Linked DNA regions of Homo sapiens. The protein of the gene in region 1 interacts with the protein of each later gene in a pairwise test. Each region holds a gene or a part of one and is shown in the gene's direction. Other genes may lie near its edges.

The links. Proteins that work in one complex are often made in the same cells at the same time.
Region 2: the proteins of SMCO4 (region 1) and MS4A3 interact in binary tests that used the Homo sapiens proteins (3 or more experiments, as listed by UniProt).
Region 3: the proteins of SMCO4 (region 1) and KASH5 interact in binary tests that used the Homo sapiens proteins (3 or more experiments, as listed by UniProt).
Region 4: the proteins of SMCO4 (region 1) and MGST3 interact in binary tests that used the Homo sapiens proteins (3 or more experiments, as listed by UniProt).

Annotation. Positions count from the first base shown.
Region 1 is NC_000011.10:93,476,996-93,482,242, reverse strand, and holds the end of SMCO4 (single-pass membrane and coiled-coil domain-containing protein 4), read left to right. Parts: intron 1-2,958; coding exon of another isoform or gene 2,959-3,053; coding exon 3,054-3,233; coding exon of another isoform or gene 3,234-3,373; 3' UTR 3,374-3,771; downstream 3,772-5,247.
Region 2 is NC_000011.10:60,059,665-60,064,183, forward strand, and holds part of MS4A3 (membrane-spanning 4-domains subfamily A member 3), read left to right. Parts: intron 1-1,481; 5' UTR 1,482-1,496; coding exon 1,497-1,652; intron 1,653-1,858; exon of another isoform or gene 1,859-1,890; intron 1,891-2,803; coding exon 2,804-2,941; intron 2,942-4,519. UniProt on the Homo sapiens protein: Hematopoietic modulator for the G1-S cell cycle transition. Modulates the level of phosphorylation of cyclin-dependent kinase 2 (CDK2) through its direct binding to cyclin-dependent kinase inhibitor 3 (CDKN3/KAP).
Region 3 is NC_000019.10:49,391,249-49,395,767, forward strand, and holds part of KASH5 (protein KASH5), read left to right. Parts: intron 1-2,097; exon of another isoform or gene 2,098-2,151; coding exon of another isoform or gene 2,152-2,152; exon of another isoform or gene 2,153-2,171; intron 2,172-2,228; exon of another isoform or gene 2,229-2,584; coding exon of another isoform or gene 2,585-2,609; intron 2,610-3,227; coding exon 3,228-3,332; intron 3,333-3,857; coding exon 3,858-4,044; intron 4,045-4,519. UniProt on the Homo sapiens protein: As a component of the LINC (LInker of Nucleoskeleton and Cytoskeleton) complex, involved in the connection between the nuclear lamina and the cytoskeleton.
Region 4 is NC_000001.11:165,651,734-165,656,252, forward strand, and holds the end of MGST3 (glutathione S-transferase 3, mitochondrial), read left to right. Parts: intron 1-244; coding exon 245-302; intron 303-2,545; coding exon 2,546-2,618; intron 2,619-3,634; coding exon 3,635-3,771; 3' UTR 3,772-4,403; downstream 4,404-4,519. UniProt on the Homo sapiens protein: Displays both glutathione S-transferase and glutathione peroxidase activities toward oxyeicosanoids, as part of cellular detoxification as well as synthesis of bioactive metabolites.

The DNA of each region.
Region 1 (5,247 bases):
TTCACCATAGGGTCCCCTCCCCAGTCGTTATCTCAGAGATGCTTTCCCTTGCTGCCCCAGCTCACAGGTGAGTGAGAGCAGAGACGCTGCTCCTCCTGAAGCCTGATGAAGTACCCAGGATTCAGACGGGCATGTTTGCCCTTTAAATCCTGACCAGACCGGCCCTGGCCCCAGCAGCTTGAGGCTTTTTTCCATGCCTCCAGGAACTTCTGAATGCATCTTACAAATGTTGAGAACTGGTCATTGTGGAGGCTGGGGCCTTTGAATGTCAACTACACTTGTGTGGGTGGATGCAGACAGCAGCATGAAGTGCAGGAGGGAAGTCAGGCCCAGCACTGCTAGCCAGCCAGCCAGGGCATGGCTAGCCCCAGGCCTGGGGTGCCACCTGCCAGTCCTGTGAGGAATTTGGGAGAGACAGCAGCGGGCTCCGACAGGCCATTAGCTCCACAAGGAAATGGCCACGAATCAGAGTGCTGCTAATGGCTTGTTTCTTTTTAAACAATTTTTTTGAGGCCGTGTCGGAGAGAATAGGCTGCCATTTGCAGCTTTGAACAGGAATGCTGTCCATTGCTCTGTTAGAAGCCATGGGGTATTTACAAACTGGGTGACTGTTGGCAAGACATTTTTCCCCTTTGCTCCTTGGTTTCCTCCCTTCCGTGATGGGGATAATAAAGCCTGTCTGTCTGACTCACAGGGCCGTTGGGGTGTGTTCCAGGTGTTGGTATGTCAGCTAGCACGAATTCGCCGCCCGCTCTGTGCCAAGCCCTGAGTTATACAGCTTCCTACTCCATCCTCACCACGGTCCCGCGAAGGTGGGCATCACTCAAGGCTGCAGTCAGGCTTAGAGGAGCTCAGTGCACCCGTCCCTGGGCCGCCCACGGGTATGGGTGGAGATGTCTCAGCCCACCTGTACCGCGTCCCTGCGGGCGGGCAGAGCTCTGGGTACAGATGCATTTGTTTTCCAGATTCTCACAGTCATCCTTTAAGACAAGCTGTTCTCATTGTTCAGATGATGGCATGGAGGCCTAGTGGAGTTAAGTGACTTGCTCAAAGCCATTTAGCCTGTAAGTGATTGGTCCTGGATTTGAAGGCAAGTCTGCCTGGAAGTCCTTTGGAAGACTTGAAAAGGAGAATTGGTAAAGCCAGGGGTTCCTATACCTTTCAGGCCTTAAGAAAGTAATAGTAGGTGTTTTTTTTTTTCTCTCTGTTCCTTATTTCATGAAGGAAATTATACATTTGCCCAAATGGCGCTTCCCTTAATATTTGCTGAACCTTAATGTTTGCTTTTGATTGGCATTATGCCATCCTAGCACAATAATATTTGTCATCTCATACCTTAGGAAACTCTGCCTGATTTTGAATGATACAAAAAAGGTTTTGGGGTCTAAATGGAGTGAGAGGAATGGTAAGAGATTAAGTATCCCTCATAAAAACAGGATGGTGTCAGTAAGACCTTTCCCAACTCTGAGTTCACATTCTACCACCTCGGTCACTTAGGTGTAAATGTCATCTTCCTCCTCAAGATGATGACAGGCCACCCACTACCCTGGGACAAAACAGGGCAGACAGTATACAGCATAGGTCCCTCTGCTAGAGGAACATTGGTATTCAGTGCTCTTCTGCTTCCAAGAACCCCTCACTCCATGCTACTCTCCGAGAATATTGTAATGGACATCTGCCTTTGATATAGCCCTGATACCCAACCCCACTCCGTCACTGTGTTTGAAAAGTACTCTTCCTGCTGTACAAATTGGAAGGCTAGGCTGTGGGCATATGGGCCGGGGCTTGGCTAGTCACACATGCATGGAAGCTGGTGATGCAGAATGCTGGGGGGTGGCGAGTTCATCTGGAGACTGTGCCAGCAGCCACATCTAGTTTTTGGGGGTGGTCATGGTGGCTCGGCACCTCCTGCTCCAGTGCCCATGTCCAGTGCTGACGGTGGTGATGCAGGCTCTGGCATCCTCACACTGGGAGTGTGAGTTGGGCTCCAGTTATGGCAGCACAGCATAATGTCCTGCCCATTTTCTGAGCCTGGTTCTTTGGCTTTTCTGGGAATCAGTGAGATGCCAAAGGCCTTTAAGTAAACTCGATTTAAATCAGCTGAAGTCTGCTTCATCTGCTTAAAGCTAAGAAGCCGACTTTTATAGAGATGTTCCTCTGTAGTTATCCAAACATTTGTATTCATTCTTCTGGCCCCTGAAAGTTCTACTTCACCTGTTAGGCACCTCCGTGAGCTACAGAATTAACAGGAGAATCCCAGGTTGAGTGGGTGGCAGGACTGTGGGCTCAGCCGTCTCCCTTCATTATTACTGTGACCCGGGTCTCCATCATGCCCCCTAGACGGTGACCTCTGTGGGGACACAACTGAGTCCTTCATCTCTATCCTCAGCTCCTTGAGTAATGCTTGGCACACGGTGGGTGCTTGGGAAGGTTTGGATGAATGGGCCAAGGAACCAACAAAGAGATGAGAGAAGTTGATGCCTGTGGGCTCTCTGCAGCCTTAATGAGGCTGGCCTGGCTTGGGCAGGAAGGGGGCTACGTGCCTGGAGACTGCAGGCTGCCTGCAGTTCCATGCTGGAGATGGGCTGGGGAGATCATGGAACTTAGAGCAGGAAAGCAAGTAGCTAGAGCCACGAAAGGGAGAGCCGCTCCTCTGAGTGGAGGCGGCGTAGTTGGTGCTTCCCAATCCTTTCACCTCATGGCATGTACAGAACACAGTATTATTTGTCTGGTACCCAGGGCTTTGTCCAGCTGGCGCTGGAGCGGAGGCCCCTCTCACAGCACACCGGTGACCCAGTGCCCACTACTTAGAGCGCTGATCCCAAGAGAACTTAGAGCCTGGTGTGGCCTCTGTTCTTAGCCCTTTGTCATGTAAGTTGCAGATATTTTTCCTAGTTGTGTATTTGCCTTTAAGTGATTTATTTTTTCTTCTATTTGGTTTATTCTCTACTATCACAGTTGTTCTCTCTACAGGAGGTTCCAGCCTTGGCAAGAGGAGTGTGGCCCTTCCTGGAATCCCTCTGGACACACCCTCCTAGCATCCTCTAGGAAAGATGCGGCAGCTCAAAGGGAAGCCCAAGAAGGAGACCTCCAAGGACAAGAAGGAGCGGAAGCAAGCCATGCAGGAGGCCCGGCAGCAGATCACTACAGTGGTGCTGCCCACGCTGGCCGTGGTCGTGCTCTTGATCGTGGTGTTTGTGTACGTGGCCACGCGCCCCACCATCACCGAGTGAGCCCCGCAGCCGGCTGCGGACCCCATCGGCAGGGAGAGGAGGCGCGGGAGGGGGACGCAAACAAAAAATGGCTTTCATATTCAGAGATGTTCATGTTGCTGAGCTGTAAGCAGGAGCACCCTGTCTTCTCTGGTCTTTGACTTGATTAAAGTATCTCCGCTTTCTTGGGAGGGAATAGGGGATGTTTTATCAGTGAATGTGCCATACACCTTATGGTCCACTTCATGTGCCTTTCAGACTTCAAAGCGCGCGCGCATGTGTGTGTGTGTGTGTGTGTGTGTGTGTGTGTGTGTGTGCTTCTTTTTCTCTCCTAAAAATCGATAAGTAGCTCCACCTGAAGAGGGATGGAACCTCTGGGTCAGGAAACAGCTGGAATCCACACTCACCTCATTCCCATTGTTTGGATCATGCTTCTTTCCAACACGTGTTCACAATCTCCAAAGGGACTGTATTTCTTCTCTGTGCTTAATGTGATTTGAAATATGTTGAATCAAAGTGAAATATTTATTTTTTGAATAAAGGAGATAATAGCCTTAAACTGGATGCTTATCATGTTTTGCAAGGAGGTGCTGTCTGTGGGTCTCCCCCTGCCCACGGGTCTGCCCCTCTTCCCTCCCCTTCCCTTTCTCCTGTGGCTCTCTCCACCTTCCCCAGCACTCCCTCTGCTCATCATTTCTGAGTAAAATTATGCTTTTTGACCGATAATTTTAAGATGGAGAGGGACAGAAAGGGTATATTAATTGGCTTGCTTTAGAAAGTGAGAGTTCTAATTAGACTGTGACGACAGGTGCTTTTTACACCAGTTAGTTTTTCCTACTTCAACTCGGTATGTTTGTGCAAACAGCAATACAGAGTGATCCTGGAAGTAAAGGTCAGGCTTGGTTTTGTTCTTAGCTGAAAGGATGCAAATTGTTGGCATTCCAGCTGAGTTTTCAATGCAAATTGGCTGGAATGGTTGCCTCATTTTATTCTAACAGCACTGCTCAGGCGGTCCTGGTTCCTGATGGAGCAGCCTCTTTTTGGAAGTCAGATTCATGGTTACTGTTCTGAGGATGTCTGTTTTCCTGTCATTGCTGATTATGGAGATCTGTGGGGAGAGAAGTGCTTTTCCTAATCCCCGTGGCTGCGCGACTCGCTCACAGATGGCAGAGGCTGTTAGTGGAGATTTGGGGCCTCTTGGAGTGAGTCTCTCTGGAAGACGAAGCAGCTATTGAAAGGAAGGACTTCTCTGGCTGATGCCTGGAGAGCCTGGACTCAGCAGGCTGACAGAGCTCTGCGGCCCCGCTCTGTGAGCTGGTCTCAGAGAGACTCCGTGTCTCCTCATGCTCACTCAAGGGCCAATGGCCCTGGTAAGAGATTTGCTAAAATACTTGCCAAATTCAGAGGCTGCTAGCATCAAGTTCCTCTGAGGTTTCTGTTTTCCTCCCCTTTATTTGGTTCTGTTATGAACTTCAGTGCTTGCTGGTCTGAGAAAGACTGCAGGCCACTGTCCCAAGGACTTTCTCATTCAGGGGCTGGAGGGTGGAGGAAGGCGTCTGCGGCCATCCCTGCTCCTCACAGGGGCTGCTGTGCGGCTGATGAGTCCCCTTCCCAGGGCAGATGCTGTGAGGATGGAGCAAGGACAGCCTGTCCACTCCAGCAGAAAGACCCCAGTCTGCATGTCTTGCAATTACCTGATCAGCATTTAGTTCCCAGTCTACCACTCAGAATTGTGGATTACTTAACCCCACTGAACCTCAGTTTCCCTGTCTGTAAAGAACTGGTAAAGTCACTTTCAGGAAGGTGAGCCCTAGTAGAAAATAAGGCTTTTAGAACAAACTTGGGTTTTGGTGCAGATTTTGCTGCTGGAACCCCTCTGAGTCCACTTAGAGGTTATCTTGCCTCATAGGATTGTGGGGAGGGTTAAGTTGAAATAGTGTATTTGTAAAGCCAAATCTAGCGCCTGGGGCTTAGTTACTCATAGTTACTGTGTAAACAATAGTAGCTTGATATTTTACATATATTTATTTCTCAC
Region 2 (4,519 bases), about 33 Mb from region 1:
AGGATAATGGCTTCTACTTCATCCATGTTCCTGCAAAAGACATGATCTCATTCCTTTTTATGGCTGCATAGTATTCCACAGTGTGTATGTACCACATTTTCTTCATCCAGTCTACAAATGATGGACATTTAGGTTGATTCTATGTCTTTGCTATTGTGAATAGTGCTGCAATGAACATTCACGTGCATGTGTTTTATGGTAGAATGATTTATATTAAGATCTTATTCTTAACCCAATCGATAGTTATGGCAGAATACAGCATCATTTTATGTGTTTGTTTATGGTTCATCTCATGCCATCTCCCTCATCAGTTATAAAAGCATATAAGCATTTTACAACTATTTTGTGTAGGAGGGTACTATGAATTAGGAAGTTATCTTGCCCAACATTCAGAAGTCCAATGTAAGCATTCTGTGTGTACTTTAGTGATACATATTTTTCAGCTGTAATGATTGAGGTGGTTGTTTTGTGACCCTTATATATATACAAACTTGAAGTCCTTTTTGTTAGAAGGCAGAGTATAAGTTAAAAGCTGATACCACCTGTTCACAGGTTGAGAATTCCGTACATTATCAAAGTCAACTCTCGCAATGTTAATATAAAATTAAAATTATTCCCATTTTTACAGAAGTGAAAACTGAGGTTCCCACTACAAGGTCATGCAACTAGTAAGTGATGAAATCTGGATTTGAATTGGAATCTTCCATAGTGCTTAAACTCTGAAAACTGAGGTTCCCATTACTAGGTCATGCAACTAGTAAATGATGAAATCTGGATTTGAATTTGGATCTTCCATAGTGCTTAAACTCTACCATGCTATGTTGGTACTCAGAAAGACGTCTTCTATATAGTACTATATAATGTGGTGATTTGAAAAATATTGGACCTTAGAGTAGAATGTTTTTAGTAAAATCTGAAATGATTTATAAGCCATATGAGTTTGGGTAAGTTTCTCGGTCTCTCTATACCTCAATTTTTTTCATCTGTGAAACGGGAATAATAATAATATTATAACAGGATTAAGTATATTAATACATTCACAGCATCCAGACAGTGCTTGGCATATAGTAATAAGTACTAAATAAATGACACCTACTATTATTACTGGAATGTGACTAAAGCCATTATTCTTATAAAGAGACCACTGCTCAGAGAAACCATATGTCTGGTTGCCCTTGACTGACTTGAAGAAAGGCAGGGACTATATATCAGTGCATGCAAAATGAGAAAGAAATTGCTCTTTACCATTCCAAAGTTAAGTGAAGCACCAAGGCCTACTACAATGACCCGATGATGTCTACTACTCCAAGGCAAGACAGAATTGAATATTGTACAAACTCTGTTACTCTGCCCTGGTGTCCCATTTGTGGAGAGTCATTGTAATGTATGGACAGAATTGAACCCTTCTGTAACACTCAAAATTTTAGTAGCTAGTGGAAAAAGGGAAAGCATGAAGGCTTTGGATTTCTTTTCTATCACAGCCATAAACAACCCCAATGGCCTCCCACGAAGTTGATAATGCAGAGCTGGGGTCAGCCTCTGCCCATGGTACCCCAGGCAGTGAGGCGGGACCAGAAGAGCTGAATACTTCTGTCTACCAGCCCATAGATGGATCACCAGATTATCAGAAAGCAAAATTACAAGTTCTTGGGGTAAGTCAGCCTTAGTTTAAACACTGATTTAAGAGGGAAGAAAATAAATACAGTTGACCTGTGAATAACGTGCGTTTGAACTGTGAGGATTCCCTTACATGTGGATTTCTTCCACCTCTGTTTGCCATCCCGAGACAGCAAGAACAACCCCTGCTCTCCCTCTTCTTCCTCAGTCTATTCAACGTGAAGAGGATGAGGATGAAGACCTTTATGATAATCTACTTCCACTTAATGAATAGTAAATACATTTTCTCTTTCTTATGATTTCCTTAACGTTTTTAGTTTCTCTAGCTTATTGTATATAATATGTCACATACAAAATATGTGATAATCGACTGTTTATATTAATAGTAAGACTTCTGGTCAACAGTAGGCTATTAGTAGTTAAGTTTTTGGGAAGTCATAAGTTTTACGTGGATTTACCACCATGAAAGGGTGGGCATTCCAAACCCCAATGTTGTTCAAGAGCCAACTGTATCATGTAGAAAACCTTGCTTATGCTGAGAAGGAGGAAATTCTGAGTTATTTATCACTGACTTAATAATGATTGGAGAAAAGACAGGGACTTCTTATAGATCTGGGGAGCAGAAATGCAAAGGCATTTTCTCATGGTAGAAAACATCAAACCTTGGAGAACAGATTCCAAGACCCTTCATTTTTTGTTTTGTGCCTTTTGACCAGCCATTTGAGGAGGCTGAGCTCTATGAAGCTTATATTCTATATTTTAAATTTAAAAATTGGGTTGAGAGAAGGGTTAAAAATTGGGTTGAGAGAAAGGCTGAGTAGGATATGGCTTATCCTCTGTCTGCCTTCATCATATTATGATGCAAAAGCATGCTGGGAAGAGACTTTGACTCCATCTACCTTACCAATCATGTCTGTTTTACTGTCCTGCCACTTTCTGAGAGGAGTTCGTGAGAATGAACAGAAATGTGGGGGAGAGGTGAAGACAAAATGCTGCCACTGGAATTGGTGTGGATAGCGTGGAATAAAAAACTCTTTCAGATAAGCTCTCGTTCTGTTAATTTAGGCTTGACACTTTAACCATTTCAAGCACCGACATCTCCTTTCTGAGGAAAATTAAAATGGCCTGTTTTCAGTGTCCACTTTAGTATATGACTGTTACGCCTTTTTCCCCTTTCTTCTTTCAGGCCATCCAGATCCTGAATGCAGCAATGATTCTGGCTTTGGGTGTCTTTCTGGGTTCCTTGCAATACCCATACCACTTCCAAAAGCACTTCTTTTTCTTCACCTTCTACACAGGCTACCCGATTTGGGGTGCTGTGTTTGTGAGTATTCGTACTCCCCTGGCTATATGTTATTTCTTAGATACCACTGCTGGAGATGTGTTTGATGACAAAAATATTGTTTGTAGGTTATTGGAAGGTTGCATGCTGTGGTTTTGATTTGCAATTCTTGATATAAACAATTAGAGACGATAAACTCTTTTTTATTTTTTAATTTAATTAATTACTTAATTAATTTATTTTTTGAGACAAAGTCTCGATCTGCCATCCAGGCTGGAGTGCAGTGGCATGATCTCTGCCCACTGAAACCCTCTGCCTCCCCAGTTCAAGTGATTCTCTTGCCTCAGTCTCCTGAGTGGCTGGGATTACAGGCATGCACCACCATGCCCACCTAATTTTTGTTTTTGTATTTTTAGTAGAGACAGGGATTCACCATGTTTTCCAGGATGGTCTCGAACTCCTGACCACAAGTGGTCCTCCCAGCTTGGCCTCCCAAAATGCTGGAATTGCCAGGCATGAGCCCTGATGCCAGGCCAAAAATCTCTTTCTGATTAAGAGAAACCACATTTGCCAAGTACAAATGAAGTCCTAAAAATTATCTTATATATAACTATATGTTACATTTATAGATACTTAAAAAATTGAATGAAAAATGGGTATTGATGAATTGCCTTGTGGTACAGCAGAGAGTCCTGGCTTGAGAGTTAAGAAATTTGTCTGCTGATTACTGTCTGAAAGTCAGAAGAATCATTTCCATTATCTGGGTCAACATTCAATCAGAAGAAATAGGGGTGATTTTAAAATGTATTCATTCAGTTTTGATTATTTATTACTTCCCTGATGGTTCATTTTTAAAAAGTGAATGATATGTTTGTTGGCCATTTGTATATCTTCTTTTGAGAATTGTCTATTCATGTCCTTAGCCCATTTTTTGATGGGATTGTTTGTTTATTTCTTGGTGATTTGTTTGGGTTCATTGCAGATTCTGGATATTAGTCCTTTGTTAGATGTATAGATTGTGAAGATTTTCTCCCACTCTATGGGTTGTCTGTTTACTCTGCTGACTGTTCCTTTTGCCGTGCAAAAGCTCCTTAGTTTAATTAGGTCCCAGCTATTTATCTTTGATTTTATTGCATTTGTTTTTGGCTTCTTCGTCATTAAATCCTTGCATAAGCCATTATCCTAAGTGAAGTAACTCAGGAGTGGAAAATCAAACATCATATGTTCTCACTTATAAGCGGGAGCTAAGCTATGAGGATGCAAAGGCATAAGAATGACACAATGGACTTTGGGGACTCAGGGGGAAAGGTGGGAAGGAGGTGAGGGATAAAAGGCTACAAATTGTGTGCAGTGTATACTGTTTGGGTGATGGGTGCACCAAAATCTCACAAATTACCACTAAAGAACTTATCCATGTAACCAAACACCACCTGTTCCCCAATAACGTATGGAAATAAAAAAAATTTAAAAAATAAAATGAATAAAACTAATTGCATGGAAAGACTAAATAAATAAATAAATAAATAAATAAATAAATAAAGTGAGCAGCATCAAGTACAATTCTGTGTCCTAGGATGTGAATTTAAAAGGGAGGTTTGTATGACTATTGCTGGATATCTG
Region 3 (4,519 bases), on another chromosome or scaffold:
CCCCTGCCCCGCTTCATTTCTCTTCACAGTGCTCACATCTGTATGTCATGTTTTGTCTCTGTCTCCCCTGCTAGAGCATGAGCTCCACAAGGCAGCGTCTGTTTTATTCACTCTGGTATTCCCAGTCCCTAGAGCAGCGCTGTCCTGTGGAAGTATAATATGAGCCACATAGGTAATTTATTATTTTTTAAAAGAAAAAAGGAACAGGTGAAATGAATGTTGATAATGGATTTTCCTTATATAGCCAGACTAATACCCTGTATATTATATATGTATACAGGATATACATACATAGAGATATATATATGTATATAGCCAATATATAGCCAATATAAAAAATGTATCCAGATAATCTGTTTTTTTCATACTAAGCCCTAAAGATCTAGCGTGTACTTTACACTAACAGAGCATTTCAGTCTACACTCGCCTCAGTTCAGGTGCTCCAGAAGGAGAGACTGCCCTGTTGGCTGGGACCCCAGAGCAACTCCTGACTCACTGTGGGAGCTCACTTACTGTTGAGTGAACGGACGGATGTAGGTTGAACGGGTGTGAAAGCTGGCTTCAGAGGGTGGGGAGGAGGCACTGGGGTTGCCTCTCTGAAACTCATCTGCCAAGTGAGAGAGCCCAGTCTGATGGGGATGGTAGGGCCCCTTTCTTAGAGGCTCCCAGGCATCCACGGCACAGCCTGCGTCTTTTTCTACAAAGCCCCAGACCTCAGGAGGCTTTCCAGATAGGAGGGTCAGAGGTAGACACCAGGGTGTGGGAACCAGAGGACAGGCTGTCTAGTGACAGCCATCTAAACTTCACCTGCACCAGCAGAGGGCGTGCAGCCACCAGGATCCGGGTGGCAAGGGCTGAGACAGCTTCGAGAGGCTCTGGAAGGAAAGGTAGGAACACACCCAGAAGGAGAGATGGAGACAGAGGAAGGCAAAGGGAAAAAGAAACAGCAGAGGAAGGAAAGAGAAGACTTAGGGAATGGAGAGTCTCTGAGATATGGGAAGGGAAGCACAGAGACTGAGATACAGGGAAGAAAACGGGGACAAGCGACATGGAGGCAGAGAGACAGGACGTGGGGAAGAGAGACTGGGAGAAAGATAGAGAGAAAGAGCCAAAGAGAAATGTAACGAAGAGGCAAGGACAGAGACATAGAGGAGATAGAGACACTGAGGAAGGAGATCTTCCTGAGGAACAGAAATGACATCTCCCTGGGGGAATCCTGGGATGCGACTTCAGACACATGCTGATCCTCAGAGCCAGCACGACCTGATGCCAGTCCTGAGTTCTATTCCCAGCTTAGCTCTCTCTGGCAAGCAGCCCTGGGTGAACCATCTCATTGGGCCTCAGGGTCCTCGTTCATGTAACATGAGAAAGACACTGAGAGGGCTGGGTATGGTGGCTCACACCTGTAATCCCAGCACTTTGCGAGGCCAAGGTGGGCGGATCACTTGAGGTCAGGAGTTCGAGACCAGCCTTGCCAACAGGGTGAAACCCCATCTCTACTAAAAATACAAAAATTAGCTGGGCCTGGTAGCAGGCACCTGTAATCCCAGCTACTCGGGAGGCTGACGCAGGAGAATTGCTTGAACCTTGGAGGCAGAAGTTGCAGTGAGCGGAGATCACGCTACTGCACTCCAGCCTGGGTGACACAGCGAGACTCCATCTCAAAAAAAAAAAAAACAGTGAGAGGAGGAAAACAGACTGGGGCTAAAGCCCTGGTCTCCCCCTAACTGTGAGTCCACACGCCCCTTCCCAAGGGCCAAACCTAGGAGCATAGGTTCAAGACAGAGGGGGTGCAAATTTCACTCACTGCAGAGAATCCTGGAAGAGTTAGAGGGATGAGAAAGTTGACTCATATGTTAAACAGGGTGACCTTTGGCGAGTTCTTAGTTTCTCTATGCCTTAGTCCCCTCATTTGTAAAGTAGGGATTATAATAGCATCGATTATTATTATGCTAGTAGACAGTTCATGTAAAGTGCTCAGAAAAGGCCTGGCACCTACTAAATGCTCAATAAGTGTTCAATTCTATTCTTGAGTCCCCACCACGTGCCAGGCCTTCTGCCAAAGCCTTTCTAGATTGTATCTCATTTTCTCTCTAGGAAAGAGGTAACACCAACCCCATTTTCCAGAGGAAGAAACTGAGGCCCAAGAGAAGTTGAGTCCATTGCCCCAGGTGCCACCACTTGTCTGAGGCCAAGCCTCGGTTGCCCCCTGGATCTACCCCGTCCTGCAGCCTGTGCTCAGTGAGCTGCTGCACCCAGCTGTTCAAGGCCAGGGCAGGGAGCCTAGAAGTTCACTTCCAGCCCTGGGAGAGAGGCTGGGCCAGCCCAGTGGCTCCTGCAGTTGAGGATCTCTTCCTATGTCATGGAGCATTTGTTGAGCACCTGCCATCTGCAGGTGTTGTGGCTACAACAGTAGACAAATAGACCCCAGGACGTGTGTGTGTGTGTGTGTGTGTGTGTGTGTGTGTGTGTACATGCGTGTGCTTCACATACACAGAGCTAACTCAGCCCTGGTGAGGAGGATCACTCTACCCACCCCCCCAGTAGGGAAACCGAGGCTCTAACAGAAGAGACTTGCCCACAGATGTGCAGCTGGACTCTGCACCCAGGTCTGACACACTGATCCAGCTCATAACCATTCCCTCACTGCCCACCCTGTCTGGTTTACCCTATCCCTTCATGTCTCAGCCCCTGGCCATGGGCTCCAATGATGCCACCCTTGCCTTAGGGATGCAGGGAGGAGAGAGACCTGGTCCCCAGGGTGGGCTGGGAGACCGGAGATGCAGCAGGCGGGATCGATCTGGGCTGCCCATGCATTATTGGATTGTTCCTGGCTCCTGGGCCCCCCCTTCACTCTCAGCTCCTCCCAGAATCCTCTCTTCTTTGCCCTCCCCGACCCTGTCCCTCTCTGAGTCCAGCCTGGGAGGCTGGAGAGGAGAGGAGGAAAGGGTGATCTCAGAGCGTTCTTCTCTGGGCTCCTAAGCCAATTGGACACAAAAAGACAGCAGGGGGGACTTCCTGGTTTGAAAGATGGGGGGAAGTAACTCAGAGACCCTCACATTGTTGCCCCCTCCTGAAGCTTCCTGCTGTTCCCCACCCGCCCGAACTCTCAGTGCTCTGAGTGAATTCCCTCCCCGCTACAGAGCCCAGGAGGCTGAGGACCTGGGGTCACCCCTCTTCCTTCCTTATTCTTCCCACTGGTGAGCTGAGCCCTCTTGTCTCCCCAGTGTACCTCCGGGAGCGGCCTGAGGAGGCAAGGCTGGGAATGCCGGTCAGCTTGGAGGAGCAAATACTCAACTCCACGTTCGAAGCTTGTGACCCTCAGAGGACAGGTGGTGGGGGCATGAGGGGTGCTGGGGACCAGTGCGGGCAGGATGGGGTGGAGGCTGGGAACTGGGGAGCCTCAGAGAGAAGACTGGGCTAAGGCCCCCTCTTGGGGGTATTGTAAGAACAAAGTGGGTGATTATGGGAAGCTTCAGGAAGAAGAACGTGGATAATGGGGTGAAGGCCTTTTAGAATGAGGAAAACTTGGGGGACGTTGATGGAAGAGGGCAGAGTTTTGGGGTCGTGGGATAGGGGAGGGAGGCAGCCACCATGGTGGCGTGGGGCATGGCTGATGCTGTCCCTATGTCCATCCCCTTTGGTTTACCCTGTGATGGGGGGATGACTGGGCCCCATTTCCAGGTGAAAAAGTGGACTCAGAGGAGGGGAAAGGGCTTGCCCAGTGTGTCTCCACTGGGCCATGGAGCAGGAGTGCCACCAGCCTAGCCAGTGACATCCTGGTCCCAAGCTGCTGCCAGTCCATACCCATCACTCCCCACCTGCCCCAGACCCCCTCACTGCATGCTCTGTCACAGGCACTGTGGCTGTGGCCCAGGTGCTGGCCTACCTGGAGGCTGTGACAGGCCAGGGCCCCCAGGATGCACGCCTCCAAACATTGGCCAACAGCCTGGACCCCAATGGGGAGGGCCCTAAGGCCACTGTGGACTTGGACACTTTCCTGGTTGTCATGCGTGACTGGATTGCTGCCTGTCAACTACATGGGTGAGTCCCCACATCTTCATCCTCCTCTGGGAAGTCCTTCCTAAGATCTAACCTCATACCTGCTTACTGGAGCCAGCATCCTTTAGGCCCAAGGACCTACTGTGTTTGGAATGAGGCTGTGGAGAGAAAAATGAAGAGACGGGATTCAGAGGGGGTAGATAGGGAGTCTGAGGACAAAATAATTTGGATGAGGAAGCAGAGGGGGTCTGGGAGACAGAAATAAAATGGGGCTGGAGAAGGGAGGAGTTTGGGGCTGACAGAGGTCCCTCCCCAACCCTTCACCAAACCCACTCCTTGCCCCTCCTGCTTTTCCATCTGGCCACGGGCACTTGCCATCTGGCCTCACCCTCCTACCCTGTGGTGCCAGCTCTCACCTGACCCGGTCCCCTCCTCCCACCTGCAATCCCCCTGCCTGTGGCTGGTGAGGACTGAGGGGCAGCTACAGTGGGGCGCTAAGCCTCATCCCTTTGATACA
Region 4 (4,519 bases), on another chromosome or scaffold:
TCTCTACAAAACTTAGCCAGGCATGGTGGCACGCACCTGTAATCCCAGCTACTCAGGAAGCTGAGGCATGAGAATTACTTGAACCCGGGAGGCGGAGGTTGCAGTGAGCTGAGATCATGCCACTGCATTCCAGCCTGGGTGACAGAGACACTCCGTCTCAAAAAAAAAAAAAAAAAAATTCATAATTCTACACAGGCATACTTAAAAAGGGCACTTTTTAAAAGTTTCTTTCTGTCAATTCCAGGTTGGAAGTGTATCCTCCCTTCTTATTTTTTCTAGCTGTTGGAGGTGTTTACCACCCGGTAAGTTTTCCAGGAGGTGTTCATCTATTTGGATAGTAGTTCACTGAGCTATTATCAGGGACAGAAGAAGGAAATAAACATTTAATGAATATCTTCAGTGTCTAGGCACTGCATATTTAAAAGGATTTTATTCAATTATTTCTTACAGAGTTCTTTAAAGGAGATGGGATTTTCCTCATATTTTACAGATAAGGAAAAGCCTCTCATATACTATTTAAACTTCACAAGGTCAAATAGCTACAGAGTAGAAGGATTAGAATTTGAACTCAGGTCTGTCTGGTTCTAAGTTTCATGTCTATAAGAGTTCATTTGTTATAGTAATTCATTCACACAACAAACTTTCACTCACCACCTGGGGTAAAGCAGTGATCAAAGCAGACAAAGACCCCTGGTTTCATAGAGCTTGCCTTTTTGTTGTGGGGTGTGGGGTGGTCACAGAGAAGAAGCAACCTAAGTAAATTACATCATGTGTTAGGAGGTGGTGAGTGCAGAGAAGAAAACAAAGTGGGGAAGGTGGAAAGGGGATGTGGAGTGGGATAATTTTGAATAGGGTGGTCAGGGAGGGGGGCTTTGCTGAGATGATAGTTAAGCAAGTATAAAAGGAGGTGAGGGAGCAGGTGCTGCACGAGTTTCCCCAACCTCCAGCCAGAAGACAAGCAAGGCCTGAGGCAGGCACCTGTCTGGTTTGTTTGGTGAGCAGTGAGAAGCCAATGGAGCCAGGAGAGGGGCAGCAACAGAGGGCAGAGGGGTGATGAGGCAGGTCACTGGGGACTTGCAGGCCTCTGCAGTATAGATAGCCCTGTGGGATGGAGATTTAGTCTGCACTTAAACATATCTAAATAAAGCAAGTTTATCAGCCTCTAATTAATTGCCATTTGGGTCTTGTCTTAGACAGAAGTGTTCCCCTTTTCTGAGGACAGATTATCTCCTGAAACCAAGTTCTGACCAGAGTGGCCCTTCAGACTTCTGGTTCTAAGCCTTTCCTAACCATCTGGTTCATCCTGAATGCCTTGTACTTTTGTTAAAAAGCTGCCAGAATGGCATATCTACTGCTTATGACCTTGAAGGCCTGCATTTTTTTCAAAGAAACATCTACTGCTCTTGTATCTCTTAGAAAATGTATCTTTCTGGTGCCTCTAAAGATCCCCATTCCTAGCAAGTGACTAGACTAGCTGATCTGAATAGCTCAGGTCTCTAGATTAGTCCTCATTTGGTGTCCCCACTCCATCCCCATTCCTATCACACATCCCTGGATCCCATTCCTTATGGGTAGTTCTGAAAAATAAGAGCTAGTTTGGGGACAAGCACCTAACAATTGTTCCTAGGTTGCCAGTCATTAGGCAACATTATAGTAAAGAAGGGCCTGGCAGAGACTAGAGCTGCTATATCGTGACTTGAGGGACTGGTGTTATTTTCATTTGTTTCACCCTCCTGTTGACATTTAATGTTACCCAAAATCAACTCAAACAAACAAAAACCCTGATGCAGTAACCTTATCCCTAACAGTAGCACTGCTGAGTGGGAAAGACACTGGGGAAGGCGGCCTTCTCACATGCTGTCTTCTGTGTTCTCTCCTTGCTTATTTTAACCAAGGAAGTCACCCCAGCATGACAGCCAAAGGGATGGATTTTTCATCTAAGTTTTTATTCTCTCTTCTCAAGGACATTGGGAACAGGGAGACTTTTCCCTCGAAGACCATGTATTCTGGGAGAAGCGCTCCCCTTCTTTCTAGTGGAGCTACACCCCCAGTGTAGCCTGCAGAACCACCTGAGCCCAGCCCTGCCAGTGACTGACTTCACATAGAACAGCAGCTGAGTCTTCAGTCAATCTCATGCTCAGAGGCCCATTTGAGAAAACGGCATTTCCCCTAGTCCTGACTTTGGGGCAGTTCTCTTTTCTGGCCTGCCCTGAGACCGGCTGGCCCACATGTCCTTCTCTTGAGCTCTGACACAAGTTCCCCAAGATGCCCAGGGCAAGTGGGGGGATTCCTTCTATCCCACCTGTCTAGGAGAAGGCCAATACTCATCTCCCAGGTCCACAAGCCAAGCCATTCATAGAAGAATCACAGATATTTTATTTTCCCGCTGAAACTAACTTAATTCTACCTAATTTGCGTGGGGAGTAGTTGGCCAAATCATCAAATTGTTAACTTTTTGCTAACATATTGTGTAATCAACCCTAGGTGTTAAAAAAGGTTTGCTTGTTTCTTTCATGCAAATACTAATGTAGCCCTTTTTTCTTAGCGTATAGCTTCTGGCCTGGGCTTGGCCTGGATTGTTGGACGAGTTCTTTATGCTTATGGCTATTACACGGGAGGTTAGTATATATTGACATTTGCCAAGGAAACAACTTTAAAATTTTAAATCCTATGCTGGCCAGGCACAGTGGCTTACACCTGTAATCCCAGCACTTTGGGAGGCGAAGGCAGGCAGATTGCTTGAGCTCAGGAGTTGGATACCAGCCTGGGCAACATGGTGAAACCCTGTCTCTACAAAAAATACAAAAATTAGCCGGATGTGGTGGTGCACACCTGTAGTCCCAGCTACTTGGGAGGCTGAGGCGGGAGGATTGCTTCAGCCCAGAAGTTTCAGGCTGCTGTGAACCATGATTACACTACTACACTCCAGCCTGGGAGACAGAGCAAGATCCTATCTCAAAAAAAAATAAAATCTTATGCTACTATATTTTTTTTCTTGGGAATTTGAGAAAAGGGGAAGTCACCTGATATTTAGGTGAAAGGTCTGTTTTCTTTTTATTAATCTTTCAATTGTAACGAAACTTATTTTTATTGAGCATTTTCTATGTGCCAACCACTACTCTAAGAACTTTGCATATGTTATTTAACCTTACAACAATTCTGTAATACAGATATTATTGCATTTTACAAATTAGGAAACTGGGACTCAGCATGATTAAAGCTGTAGGTCACAGAGCTACTAAGCGTAAACTAGTAAACTAGGAATCAAACCCATGCAGTCCGACTCCAGAGCCTCACCATTACTATACCTCCTATATCTGAGTAAGGAGGAGGAAAAGCCATTTTTAGCTGTACTTCTTTGAAACAGAGGGAACTCCTTCCAAAGGTCCTAGAGCAAAGTTGCTGTAATTATTATCCCATAATTTTCTAAGATCCAAGCAATACTACTGTGGCACGTTACTTGGCATGTGGTATCTGACTTGCCAACAGCTTCAGGCTAAAGAGTTAGTTAACCTCCTAAGGCCAGTTTGTCTAATGTACAACCTCAGATGCGATGATAGAATGGCTTGCGAATGTTGAAAGCATCATAATTCTGGAGCACTCCTGGTAACTTCTGTTCTTTCTTCTTTTTCAGAACCCAGCAAGCGTAGTCGAGGAGCCCTGGGGTCCATCGCCCTCCTGGGCTTGGTGGGCACAACTGTGTGCTCTGCTTTCCAGCATCTTGGTTGGGTTAAAAGTGGCTTGGGCAGTGGACCCAAATGCTGCCATTAAAGAATTATAGGGGTTTAAAAACTCTCATTCATTTTAAATGACTTACCTTTATTTCCAGTTACATTTTTTTTCTAAATATAATAAAAACTTACCTGGCATCAGCCTCATACCTAAAACTCCTGACTCTTACCACTCATTTCCGTTTGAGTCTGTATCTGAAATCAGTAGCCTAGTCCTACTAGATGAGAAAGGAGCCACAAGTATTGTGCCCTCTCCTCACCCTTCCAGCAGATGCTTCTGTAGTATGTGAGGTTGAGAAAAAGTCTGATTGTGGTGATGTAGGTATAGTCATGCCACAGTGATGAAAAATTAAAGAAAAATCTTCTAGCTCTCAGGATATGCATTATCACTTGCTACAGATACTCCAAGGCCAAAGGAATGCTTGAGCCTAAAAGTTCAAGACCAGCCTGGGCAACATAGCAAAACCCCATCTCTACAAAAAAATATACAACAGTTAGCCAGGCATGATGGCACATGTCTGCAGTCCCAGCTACTTGGGAGGCTAAGGTGGGAGGATCACTTGAGCCCAGGGTGTCAAGGCTGCAGTGAGTTATGATCACACTGCTGCACTCCAGCGTGGGTGACAGAGCAAGACCCTGTCTCAAATAAATAAAAATTAAGTTTCTATTAAAGATTGTTTCTGTTGCTTAAAAACTGAAGCAATAGACTAAATGTAAGATGAAGGTTAACAGAGATGAATGTAACTTGCTACATTTAGAAACAAAGATCTGATTGCCTACGTACAAAT